2 linked regions of the Homo sapiens genome follow. The protein of the gene in region 1 interacts with the protein of each later gene in a biochemical or structural test. Each region holds a gene or a part of one and is shown on either strand. Other genes may lie near its edges. The genes, in order: CAMK1 and GCM1.

Region 1 (7,965 bases):
CAGAGTGACTATCCTGAATTGCACACCTGCCAAAAAGTCTTAAGTGTCTCCCGGTGGCCTATGGGACAATATCCAGCCTCCCTGGCCTGGCTTCCAAAACCCTACACAAACTGTCCCACTTTCATCTCCAGCCCCTTTTTCCACTCTCCCCCCAGCCTGTGATTTTAAGCTCCATCACACTCTACCTCTCTCCACATAGAACCATGCCTCTAAGCCTTTGTTTATGCTATTCCTTCTGCCTGGAATGTCCTTCTTCCTCTCTGACAAGTGCACACCTACCCATCCTTCAGTCCCCAGCTCTAATGCCCCATTCTCCAGGAAGTTTTCCCCCAGGCAGAAGGCACAGCTCTCTCTGGGCTCCACAAAGCCCTCAATCCCAACCTTAATTGGAGCACAGCACACACCCTGTTGTCATTTTCTGTAGGTCTGTCTCTTGCACATGTCTGGGATCAACTTGAAGGGCAGAGACCAGGTTTGAGTTATTTCTGCATTCCCAGCACCAAGAACAGAGCCATCTCCAGCCTCAGTTCCCAAACCTAGGCTAGAACACTTAGCTCTTGGCAGCAAGTTAAATGGACTGACTGGCACCTTCATTCTCTCGACTTCTTTCTCTTCAAGAACCCAGGGCTATTGGGAGAGCAGCCCGTGTCCCACCCACTGTCATCCAGAAGTGAAAAGCTGGGGACAGTTTAGGCCCTAGATAGTGCTGCCACAGGGCCTGGGCTGTGGGAAACAGGAAGCATTAATTGACCAGAGGAAGCCCCACCCTGGACTCAGCCTCCCTCAGCCATCCAGCACCCAATCCTGCCCTGGACTCACGTGCCCAGAACATCTCGGAAGTCGTAGATGTCTCTAATGTCCTCCGCCTGCTTCCACCTGGGGCCTTCCACTGCCCCCAGCATGGCCCACTGCCCCCCGACCACAGCCAGGGCTCCTGTAAGGAGAATGGAAGGAGGAGACTCAGCAGAGCCCAGCCCTCTGTCTGGGAATTTACTGCAGGCCCCATTCAGTCATTCAACCTGCATTTATTCATCCTTGATTCATCCATTTGACAAAATCATTCAACAAACATTCATTTGTTTATTCAACATTCAGCAAATTCTCATGCCTAGAGAAAAACCTTTCACAGTGGCAGCAAAATTCTTTATTTAACAAAGTCATGCATTCATTCATTCATTTATTCTAGTTCTCTTCCCAGTTTTCCCCCTATCCAAATCCAAGCACCTAGGGAAACCCTGACTTCTGGCAGTACAACAGATAAACCCCCAGAGCAGCTGGTAGAAGCCTGGAGGATCCCCCTGTCCCCAGAACCAGTGATGTCCCCGCCCCACCCTGGGGATTGCTGGGGTGTCTCCTTTCCCTCCTCCTTCCCCCGACTCCCCGGCCTCTCCGAAATCAGGTTTCCAGCAGCCTGGGCTTCCAGCAACATCTCAGCCACATTTTTAAATAGCTCTTTCTGCACTGTTACCACAGCAACAACAGCCACAGCTGGAGCTCCCCAGACCTCTCCCTCCTGACTCCCCATCTGGGTCCCGGGAGCATGAGAAATGGTCCTGCTCACTCTGTCCCTTCCTGGCCCCATCTAACCCTATCCAGCCTGGCCCTTCCTCTGCTGAGGTCTGTCTCATCCAGCAGGAGAGGGTGGGAGTTCTCTCCCATTTATCAGATGAAGAATGGGGAGACTGAGGTTGGAGTTAGGTAGAGGCTGGCTCCAGAGGCCCTAATGACACCTGGCCTGGGGCCCCCAGCTAAGCTTGCTGAGGGCAAAGGCCATCGAATGGCCTTGGCTGGTACTTCCAATATGAAGCCAGAATGGGCCCCATTCAGAGAACACAGCCTCCCAACCCATCCACAGATGAGGCCAAAACAGAGCCCAGCATGCTTTGTGACCTCAGGGAGAGCACTTTCCTTCTCTCTTTTTCTCTAAGGGAGAATGAGGAGAAGGTGCCCTGACTAGGGCCTCTGGTGTGAGATTCCACTCCTGGAACAGGACCTTTTTCCCAGGGGACCCTGCCCACCCATCCAGGGGCAGAATCTTCTAGGAAAGGAGACTCGAGTGTAAGCTCTAGAGGCAGAGTCTGAAACCCACATGGAGGCCTACCAAATACAACCCTCACAGATCCACACACATCCCTGTAGCAGACATGCCACACCAAGCCCCCTCCACAGCCCTGAACTCAAACACCTGCCTCCCAGATCCAGTACGCCTTGTATCCACATCCCGTGACACCTGATCATACATGTACTCCCAGACATCAGCACACATGTCCACACCACACAGTGCCCCAGACAGCCCTGCACCCGAACACCTGCCTGTCCATCCAAACATCCCTCACCCAGCTCCCTCTTACACCCCAAAACACACATCCACCCGCACCCACACAAGATGACACCCAGACACACACACACACACCCTCATATACCAGACGTACCCTACACCCTCCAGCTCCTCTACCCCATCCCCTGGAAGCTCCTGTATTCCAAACCAAACCCCAAGTCCTTACACACCTAACTCCAAACATCCTCAGTACACAATTGTACACCCCCTCCTAACTCTGACTTAAGACCCTGAGAGCCAAATACCAGCACACAAAACACGTGGACACCCCTCTGGAACAAAAAACACACAGATTCCCAGATCCTCCACCCATGTCTGACCCACACGCCTGTCCTAAGACAGTACACTCCGCAAGCCCCCCCACCCCATGGATACCTCCAAATGCCCACGCCCTTCCAGTCAGGCCCAGCTGAAGGCGCTCACACAGGCCCCCTTCTCTATTACCCACTCAGTGTCCCATAGGCCCGCCTGGCACCTGCTGGGCCTGGGACAGAGGTGGAGAAAGGCCCAGCCCTGCCCCTCAGGGTCCAGCCCGCCCGGGAGAGTGCCCAGTGGCCACTCCTTGGGAAAGGATACCCAGAGGCTAGGGGCTCCCACCGCCCCCACGCAGCGCCCAGGGGTGCAGGGATGGGGGGCCCGGCTGTACCTGCGGCTGCCCCGCCGCGGGGCTGGCTGGGAGGCCCGCGGTGGTTGGCGCCGAGCTGTGGCCGCGGTCCTCACCGCTGCGTGCCTGGGCCACCCGCCCGCGCTCTTGCTGGAGCTGGGGCTCGGCTCGGCTCGGCGGCTCTCTCCGCCCGCCTGCGGCTCTGATGTCAGTGGAGGTGGAGCCTGCGGCGGAGGGACCCGGGATTGGGAGGCGAGGCACCGCTCCAAGGCTGGGGAAGGGGCACGGGTGGAGGCCATCTCCCTGCTTCTGGTCAGAGATCTCCTGCTGGACGCTTCCCGCCCTTGGTCTTAAGCGGGGTCCATTTCACAGAGGGGACAACTGAGGCCCGGAGAGATGATTTTCAAATCAGCGGGTGGTCGGAAGCAAAGCAGGATTCGAACCCCGTCTGTCTGAAGCTAGAGGCCGGCCAAACTCACCCTGTGGCCTGGTGGATTTTCTTTCAGACCAGTTCTGCGACCTCCCTTAGGGCTCTGTCTCCCTTCTCCGTGCCCTGAAGGGAAACAGGCCCTGGAACTGCACGGGAGTCTGGTGGGGGATGGGGGAGTGAGGGAGTGGGGAAGGACCGGGCAAGACTAGGCAATGAAGAGAGTGGAGGTGGTCGCAGGGTGTGGGCCCCACTTGACAGGTGGGAAGACTGAGGCCCCGGTTCCTCTGCAAGATGGAGCTGAGGCTTCAGCCCCAGACACTTGCTCCTCAGAGCGGGTGGTGGTGCCTAGAGGTATTGGGGGCAGAGGGAATTGGGGAGGAGGAAGTTAAATCGGGATCCTGAAGGAAACAGGCCAAAAAGGACCGAGGTGTCACGTGACTGGCGGGGCTCCAGAGTTTGATGGCTGGGGTCCAGGTTAGGGGAGAGAGCCTGCAACTAGGACGGCAGGCAAGAGGCCAAAGGTCGGTTTGCTCAAGGCCTTCCTTGGGAAGAAATTTGGTGCCGAGTGGAAAGAGGGGGCGGGGGGAGCAACTCGCAGGAATTGGGGATGGGGCTGAACTGGGGGCAGCCGGAGGAGGCACGTTGCTTGGGACCCCACTCCACCTCCAAGGGCCTCCAAGTGCCACTCCCTACTCCTGAATTCTTGCATGTTCCAGCTGGTGATGGGGAGAGAACAGTGCTTATGCCCAGCTCATTTCCTTTTTCTCTTTCTTTCTTTCTTTTTTCTTTCTTTCTCTTCTTCTTTTTTTCTTTTTCTTTTTTTTTTAAGACAGGGTCTTGCTCTGTCACCCAGGCTGGAGTGCAATGGCATGATCACGGCCCACTGCAGCCTCAAACTCCTGGGCTCAAGTCATCTTCCTACCTCAGCCTCCCATGTAGATGGGACTACAGGTGCGTGCCACCACACCTGGCTTTTTTATTTTTTGTAGAGATGGGGATCTCACTATATTGCCCAGGCTGGTCTCAAACTCCTGGGCTCAAGCAATCCTCCCCAATCAGCTTCCCAAGGTTCTGGAATTACAGGCATGAGCCACTGCACCTGGCCAATTTATTATGCCCATCTTACAGATGAGAGAGGAAGATAGCTGAGGTTCCTGGAAAGGCTTTGGAGTCTAACTGATCCTGGTCATGCTTTACCTCTCCGAACCTCAGTTTCTTACTCGGGAACATGGGAATATTGAAGATTGACTCAGAGTTCTGAGAATTCTATGATATAATGATATGAAGTGCCTAGAACACTATTCAAAACATGAGAGCTAGACTCAGTGTAAACTGAGACTCAGAGAGAGGACTTGATTTGGCCAGGGATGAGGGGTTAAGGGATCCATCTTCCAAATCTCAGTATCTCAGACTCCTTAGTTCATGGAAAAATACATTTCCTGCTCAGGGCTGAGCCCCCACTCTCCCCTATACCCACCAAGCACACCCACTGAGCTAGGGGTTCTTTTACCACAAATTCCTGTTCATCTTGATGACAACACCCCCTGGGTGATAAGATGACCTCTGTCCTTTCGAGGACTTGTACAACTTCTTTTTTTTTTTTTTTTTTTTTTTTTTGAGACAGTCTCCCTCTGTTGCCCAGGCTGGAGTGCAATGGTGCCATCTCGCCTCACTGCAACCTCCGCCTCCTGGGTTCAAGCAATTCTCCTGCCTCAGCCTCCCAAGTATCTGGGACTACAGGCGTGAACCAACACGCCCAACTAATTTTTGTATTTTTAGTAGAGATGGGGGTTTCACCATGTTGGTCAGGCTGGTCTCGAACTCCTGACCTCAGGTGATCCACCTGCCTCAGCCTCCCAAAGTGCTGGAATTACAGGCATGAGCTACCGCGCCCAGCTGACTTGTACAGCTTCTATGGTGTGCTTTACATTTTTCCTGCTTTTGAGCATTTCTGAGAGGCCTCGTGTTTTCTTTTCTTTAACAAACACATTATCTTTACTTTCTTAGTATTTCTATTGAACAAGTGATACATGGTCATTGCAGGAAAATTCCATAATGTATTGAAAACACACACAGACTAACTGATGAGATTCTTTCGCTTCCCAAGTGACAGAATGCCAACCTAAACCAGCTTCATCCAAGAGGAATCTATAGTTCACAATAGCTGGCACAAGATTGCAGGAAAAACACCAGAGATTAGGGGCTTGGAGACTGGAACTGGAGATGTAGTACTCATAGGATTTGCTTTCTCTGTCTTCCCTCCTCTCTCCTTGTCTTGATTTTTCTTCACACGTTGGCCTCTTTTTCTCTCCAGAGTGAACTTCTAGTTGGCAGGAAACATGGAGTGAGGCAGCCCCAGCTTTCCAATTAAACACAGTGGAAGGAAAGCATCCTCCCAATTTCCTATCTCATTCTCAGGGAAGGACTCTGGCTCTGCTTGAGTGATAGAGTGACATGTTCACCCCTTGGCCTCCAAAACTGTTGCCAGGAGAATTAGGGTGCTATATTGAGCAAGTGTACTGTAATGGGCAGCCATAAGGAATGGAAGAGGTATCTTGTCCAAAGGAATTAGGGGTGCGAGGGAGGCAAGAATAACACAACACTCTCAGCCGGGCCCCCACCAACCAGAGACAACCAGTGTTCACATTTTTAGTACAATTCTTCCAGATTTTTTGGATGCGTATACATATACATCCTTCTGCAGCCCCCAGTCCCGATGAGCACATTTCAAAGTACTAATCAAAAAGTGAGTGAAGGGCCAGGCGTGGGGAGGCCAAGGTGGGCAGATCATCTGAGGTCAGGAGTTTAAGACCAGCCTGGCCAACGTGGTGAAACCCTGTCTCTACTAAAAATACAAAAATTAGCTGGGTGTGGTGGCATGCACCTGTATCCCCAGCCACTTGGGACGCTGAGGCAGGAGAATTGCTTGAACCCAGGAGATGGAAGTTGCAGTGAGCTGAGATTGCACCATTGTACTCCAGCCTGGGTGACACGGCAAGACTACATCTCAAAAAAAAAAAAAAAAAGTGGCTGGGTGCGGTGGCTAACGCCTATAATTCCAGCACCTTGGGAGGCTGAGGCGGGTGGATCATGAGGTCAGGAGATCGAGACCATCCTGGCTAACATGGTGAAACCCTGTTATCTTTTGTATTTCTACTAAAGATACAAAAAATTAGCCAGGCGTGGTGGCGGGCGCCTGTAGTCCCAGCTAATCAGGAGGCTGAGGCAGGAGAATGGCGTGGACCCGGGAGGCAGAGCTTGCAGTGAGCAGAGACCACGCGCCACTGCACTCCAGCCTGGGCGACAGAGCGAGACTCCGTCTCAAAAATAAATAAATGAATAATAATTTAAAAAAAGGTGAGTCAAGGAAAGTCAAATGTTCTCAGGGAAAAGGGGGATGATCTTTTCTTCTTTTTTTTTTTTTTGAATGGCTAAACAGTGCAGACATCTCCATCAATTCTTTTATTTATTTATTTATTTATTATTTTTTTGAGACAGGGCCTCACTCTGTCACCCAGGCTGTGGTGCAGCGGCGCCATCATGGCTCACTGCAGCCTTGACTTCCCAGGCTGGAGTGATCATCCCACCTCAGCCTCCGGAGTAGCTGGGGCTGCAGGTGTGTACCACCATACCTGGCTAATTTTTTTTAGTTTTTTATTTTTTGTAGATATCGGGTCTCTACTCCCTCTGTTGCCCAGACTTCTCTGGAACTCTGGAATCAAGTGATCCTCCTGCTTGGGTCTCCCAGAGTGCCGGGATTATAGGCGTGAGCCAGTATGGCTGGCCTCCATGAATTCTTGAACCTGACAGAAAAGAAGCTATTGAAAGAGTGAGTAGTTAACTAAGATTAGAGAAAATGGAAGAAATAACAAGGAAAAGATGGACAGGTTTATTTTTTAAAATTCTTTGGCTGGGCGTGGTGACTCACTCCTGAATCCCAGCACTTTGGGAGGCCAAGGCAGAAGGATCACCTGAGGTCAGGAGTTCAAGACCAGCCTGGGCAACATAGTGAAACCCCATCTCTACTAAAAATACAAAAATTAGCCAGGTGTGGTGGCGCATGCCTGTAGTCCCAGCTACTCGGGAGGCTGATGCAGGAGAATCACTTGAACCTGGTAGGCGGAGACTGCATTGAGCTGAGATTGCACCATTGCACTCCAGCCAGAATGACAGAGCCAGACTCTGTCTCAAAAAAAAAAAAAAAAAAAACAAAACTTTAACTTTTGTTACTTTTTTTTAACTTTTTTTCAAAAAGTGAAAACCCTACTCTACTCCGAAATGGTAGCCAAAAATGAAAGGCAAACTTCAGACTGGGGAAATGTTTTGTAGACAATGGCTTAATATATTTATTATATAAACAGCACACAGGATTGATAACAAACAGTAAGAACCTAATAAATGGTCAAAGGATACAGATAAAACACAGTAAACACAGGACATTTTGTATCTCACTAGTGATACAAAAAAGTACAAAATAGAAGGTCATTTGCAGCCTTTCAAATTTGAAGTTTAAAAAGCTGGTAACACTGAAGGCTGATGTTGATGTGAGGAATGAGTAGTCCTACATTCTGGTGGGAAAATGATTTGCTAAAG
Region 2 (5,658 bases), on another chromosome or scaffold:
AAGTAGCTGAGACTACAGGTATGCATGATGACATCCAGCTAATTTTTAATTTTTGGTAGAGACGGGGTCCCGCTATGTTGCCCAGGCTGGTCTTGAACTCCTGGGCTCAAGTGATCCACCCGCCTTTGCCTCCAAAAGTGCTGGGGTTACACGTGTGAGCCACCATGCCTGGCCAATATATAAGTTTTATATATAGTCTTGTCACTTAGACAAATGAATTTAGAAGATTTGAACAAATCTAAATGTTTATCAATAGGGACTATTTAATTATAATAGTCATGTAATGCATAATGCATCATTAAAAATGAAGCAGCTGTGATCCTATATGCTTATAAGAACTTAATGCTCAAATTGGCTCCTAAAACGACAAAAACTATGTTAGAAATGAATCTGATATGATACCACTTATGTCATCTCTCTCTTATATATATATATAAATATATTTTATATATAAAAGATATGTGTGTATTTTATGTAATGTATTTCATACACATTACATATAATTATATATATGCAGAGAACATTTCTAATATCTGGAATAATAGACAAGAAACTAGTCAGTGTTGCAGAGGGGAGACTAGAACTAGGAGACTTCTTTTTTTTCACTTTTGAATTTTGTATCATGTGCATCTGTTACTATTCTAATAAAGGAGAAGGAATAATTTATTTCAAAAATACTTGTTTATTGCATGGTTCTCTCCAGATTTTATGTCTAGGCTTACTTTTATCATAAAGTACTTCAGCAAAGAAGAGAAACTGGCATTCAAACATGGCCGGCCAATCATTGCCAGGCTAATTGCACAAGAGCTTCTCCAAGCAAATATTTCTCACCTATTACAAACCCCACATTGATATAGGTGCCACAAATAATAAATGGGATAAAACAGAAGCCCCTGTGCAAGGGGAAGTCAGTGAGGAAGAGGGAAGGAAACAAGAGGCAAGGAGACCACGCACATCACTAGTGTTTCTCTTCATATGGCAATTTAACATTGCTGTTCTTTGTCTTTATGAAAAATGGGGTTAGGTCAGGTTCCTTGTCATCACAAGTCTCAGAAATCATCTAGAAAACATATATTTTACACACTAGTCTCACAACTAGACAACATATTCAGTACTTCAGTGGTAGAATCTTCAGCTTTTCACACCTTAGGCAGTTCTTCCACCATCTATTTCTGTTTCTTCATTCTCAGTTCCCAAGAAGGCATAGATCAGGTCCTAGATAGGTTAGCATTTCACATGTCTACTCCATTTCATTTGCAACAATGACAATGAAAACCCAGCATGCAATGTGGCTGAGGTGCTGGGAACCCCAAACAATGTGGGGGAAAAAGCAGAGGGCACTTCACACCCCAGACGGGACAGGTTTCCATTCCTTACTGAGGGTGGAAATACTAGAGTGGAGGAGAAGAAGCCAAAAAAATTACTCATGTGAAGAAAAAAGCCTTGTCAGCCGGGCACAATGGCTCACGCCTGTAATCCCAGCACTTTGGGATGGTGAGGTGGGCAGATCACTTGAGATCAGGAGTTTGAGAGCAGCCTGACCAACATGGCAAAACCCTGTCTCTACTAAAAATAGAAAAATTAGCCAGGCGCAGTGGCAGGTGCCTGTAATCCCAGCTACTCGGGAGGCTGACGCAGGAGAATCACTCAAACCCGGGAGGCAGAGGTTGCAGTGAGCCGAGATGGCGCCACTGCATTCCTGCCTGGGCAAAAGAGCAAGACTCTGTCTCAAAAAAAAAAAAAAAAAAAAAAAAAGAAGGAAAAAAGAAAAAGAAAAAAGCCTTGTCTACTGCTTATCATGATTCTCATTTATCTGTGGTTATGTTTTAAAAATTATTTCCTAAGGAAATTCTTTCAGCCCTTCCCCATTTTTGAGGGGCTGGGGTGCACATAGTGAAAGATTTGGGTCATCTCAAAGGACACAGGTTCAGAAGCATATCATTGTTGCAGTGATCCAAACCCAAGTATGTCATTTCTTCCTCAAAATCCCATTTGCTGCTCTTGCTTGGCAGTGAATATTGCTGATGAGGATGAGAGGCGTAGGTGAAGAGAAAGGGGTCTTCTTGAGGTGAATGGTATGCAGGAGACTGGACGTAGCTGTTAAAATCCACATGTACTTTCTCTTCATAAAGATTACCCGCTGGATTTGGCCATAATGGGGGACAGCCAGTTTTGGCTGCAGGTGGCTCCAATGGAAGCTGCTGGTAAAAGGGTTCTGAAGAGTTTTGGGAAGGAGAGAAGCTGCAAGGCCAGCTGGTCAGAGGAAAAGGATAATTGGAATAACAGTTGTCAGCAAGATGATTTCTCCCCAAAGCAGCATTTTTACTCCACGCTTGTAGATCGCCATGATCAGAGTAGACTCCGGAGGCAGAAGGAGGAAGCAGGTCTCCACTACTGTAGGTTCTGCTACTGGACAATTTGCGCTTTTCATAGAGCTTCATGGGGTCCACAGTGGAAGTCTGGTCAGTCAGATCTGTGATTCCTCCCAGACCATAACTCTTGGAGAAGGAAAAGCAATCATTTAGTGAGTTCTGCTGAGGAGTGTTAGCTATTAAATGTCCACTGTAACTACCAGGCAATTGGACGCCTTCCTGGAAAGACCAAGTTAAAGGTAAACTCCCCTGACTTTGTGTTTCACCTGGAAGAGACTGGAAAGGAAAGTGAAATGCTCGTGTTAATAAGTTAAGCAAATCAAAACCACTGCCATAGGCACCCATGAGTTACTCTGTACAAATAAGAGCTCCATCAGATTTTCCTCATTCCTTACACATTAATACTTGACGCACAAACACATGCAGCGGCTTGACCACAACCACGAAACACTTGAAAAAAGCAAAGGCTGCCTCTGTTTCCATGTTAAAGCTTGCTAACCAGTAAGAGCCAAATTTCCCTACATTCAGTAGAGACATGAGTGTGTTTAAGATGTTTCACACTCAAACACAAATCTGATATCCTAATTGCTTTTTATTTATTCTTTTTTTTTTTTTTTTGAGATGGAGTCTCGCTCTGTTGCCCAGCCAGGCTGGAGCGCAGTGGCACGATCTTGGCTCACTGCAACCTCTGCCTCCCGGGTTCAAGCAATTCTCATGTCTCAGCCTCTCAATAGCTGGGATTACAGGCGCCTGCCACCACGCCCAGCTAATTTTTGTATTTTCAGTAGAGATGGGGTTTTGCCATGTTGGCCAGGCTGGTCTCGAACTCCTGACCTCAAGTGACCCACCTGCCTTGGCCTCCCAAAGTGCTGGGATTAGAGGCATAAGCCACAGTGCCTGGCCTCTAATTGCCTTTTTGAGAAACTTATAAGGAACTATTTACAAAATATCAAAGTATAACTTCAAAGATTTATATTATACTCAGCACAACTCCCAGGGTCTCTGTCTCTCAACATTTCCTCCCTTGACTATTCTATTTCTTAGTGCTGGTTGGAGTGTGAGAGACCATGGTTGCTATTGTTTTTTAGTTTTTCCTTTCCTCAAGAGATTTTTCTTTGAATTCGTGGGAATTTTGTTGAACCATAAATCAGACCTCTAGAACACGAGTGGTACATTCATTTATTTTTCTAAATGGAGGAGGTATATTGTTCTTTAGTTAATCGTTAAAAAAAGGATCTGGTTGAGAATTAAGTTATGCTCTTGTTTAGGTAAAACTACTAGCTGTTAAGGGGATACTTTTAGGGGGTAGAGAAAAAGGGCTGTGACCAGGTAGATTGGATGAGAGACTGAAATGCCACTTGACTTGTCCCATGGCTGGGAGAAAGGATGAGGAAATAGCCATTTGGGTTTGGGGGGCTTGCATTTCCCTACAACAGATCCACATTACAATTTTTTTAAATAAAGTACATTTACAGCCTCTAGGGATGGACCAGTTCCATCTCTGTTCTCCCAAAAAGAAATGTGCACCTTTGAACAGTAGAAAAAGTATAGGAACTACTATCAATATTAAACAGACAAATGCAAAAAAACCTATGATCTGCTGCCCATAAAGCAGTGGACTTCACATCACAGTTTGTCTATAGGGAGTAGCCTCCACTCCACTATTGCCACCCTGGGACAGCTATCATTTTCGGAAACTGCTTGCTTATTTCATCTTGGTAGAGTGTGCTAAGAAAACAATCTGTTTGGGGACGTATGGAAATTCAGGAGGGCGGGGAGGGGGCAGGCGGTGAAATGCATAAGGCTACTATTTTGTGGAGATTGTTTCAATTGTTTTTGGTTCTTGCCAAATATAAGTTAAGTGCTAATTCAAGTTTCTCTTTGTAATTGTAGTAGGGAAGATGATTCTCCAATTACATGGACTTTATGGTTCCCAGCATGCTACAAAGATGGTAGAAAGTAAGAGTAAAGCCTCAGATTTAATTTCTTTAGCAGATGCTTGTTTGTAGATGAGCCTGATAATCCATGATTTCTGGCTTTCCTGCGTCAGCAAGGGACCCAGGAAATCTACCGCCCCCAGCACAGGCGTGGCAAGCTACTGCATGTATTGAACATACATAATGAAGGATTACCCTGGTCTCTGTGCTCCCCTTCAGGCTCAATGAGACGGAGGAAGGTGCTGTGTTCACTTTCTTCATGGCTCTTCTTGCCTCAGCTTCTAACTTGGTTTCTGGTTTTGGATGATCATGCTCTCCCTTTGACTTAAATGAGACAAGGAAGTAGAAAGGAAATGATATAACACTAACTAGACTGTGTTTCATGGTGTATCAGTTTTTATTTACTGTGTGTCCTGCCCCGGGGGTGGTGTTGCAGTTGCCTATGGTAACCAGACTGGATGAACCTCTGAAGGCGCTCCCAAGCCCACCATGCTCCTGCCTGCCTGCCTCTCACCCACCCAGCAAAGCCATAATCACAGTGCTAAGTAACACTTACTAAATGCTTCCTGTGGTATGTGCCAGACACAAATAAACACCCTGTGTGCCTTATATCTCATTTCATCTTCAGCACAACCATTGAGGTACACACCATTATTATCACCCCCAGTTTACAGAACAGGAAACTGAGGCATGGAGTGATTACGCCAGCTGGGTAACCTCCTCTAGAAGTGAGGGACCTAGGATTCCCCTACCTGGAGCTGGCCAAAGCTGAGAGTCAATAGTTAAACATTCAGGAATTTTGTAGGCTGATTGTTAAAAATGACTGCTGGCTTGAAATCAGCCACGGTGAGAATATTTCCATTACAGAAGTTGGCAAATGCTACAAATCAGGACATTTTCTTTTTGGAGAGCTGGTTTACCAGCATCCCACTAATTCAAACCCAGGCAGTCTGAGTCAGGGTCCATTCTTCACCACTGTTGGTGCCACTGCCCCATTAGTACTCTTACACATTCTACAGAAAACTGGGACGTGGAAGAGGAAAATCACCTGCTCAGGTTTAAAGACCGAGTAAAAAGTCAGAGCTGGTGTTCAAACTCAGATTTGCTGAAGGCTACCAGCAGCATGCAGCATGCGGCATGCTTAGAAGCACTGTGCTAACCTCAGTGTGACTAGATTAGCTGCCACTTCTCCTGAGAAGTAGAAGCAGAGACAGGCAGCTCCCCTTCTAGAGCTCCCCAGCACTTCAAACATCTATTAGAAGTGCAGGGGACAGATACTTGCTCTCTTAGAGTGTGAGCCCTCGGGGATGGTGCAGGATCTCATTCACAGGTGCATTTCTAGCCTCTGG

Evidence for each region.
Region 2: of the proteins of CAMK1 (region 1) and GCM1, one has a biochemical effect on the other in vitro, tested with the Homo sapiens proteins (one study listed by BioGRID).

The regions. Positions count from the first base shown.
Region 1 is NC_000003.12:9,766,848-9,774,812, forward strand, and holds the start of CAMK1 (calcium/calmodulin-dependent protein kinase type 1), read right to left. Parts: upstream 3,101-7,965; 5' UTR 2,985-3,100; intron 935-2,984; 5' UTR 903-934; coding exon 820-902; intron 1-819. UniProt on the Homo sapiens protein: Calcium/calmodulin-dependent protein kinase that operates in the calcium-triggered CaMKK-CaMK1 signaling cascade and, upon calcium influx, regulates transcription activators activity, cell cycle, hormone production, cell differentiation, actin filament organization and neurite outgrowth.
Region 2 is NC_000006.12:53,126,299-53,131,956, forward strand, and holds the end of GCM1 (chorion-specific transcription factor GCMa), read right to left. Parts: intron 4,634-5,658; coding exon 4,505-4,633; intron 2,649-4,504; coding exon 1,908-2,648; 3' UTR 663-1,907; downstream 1-662. UniProt on the Homo sapiens protein: Transcription factor involved in the control of expression of placental growth factor (PGF) and other placenta-specific genes. Binds to the trophoblast-specific element 2 (TSE2) of the aromatase gene enhancer. Binds to the SYDE1 promoter.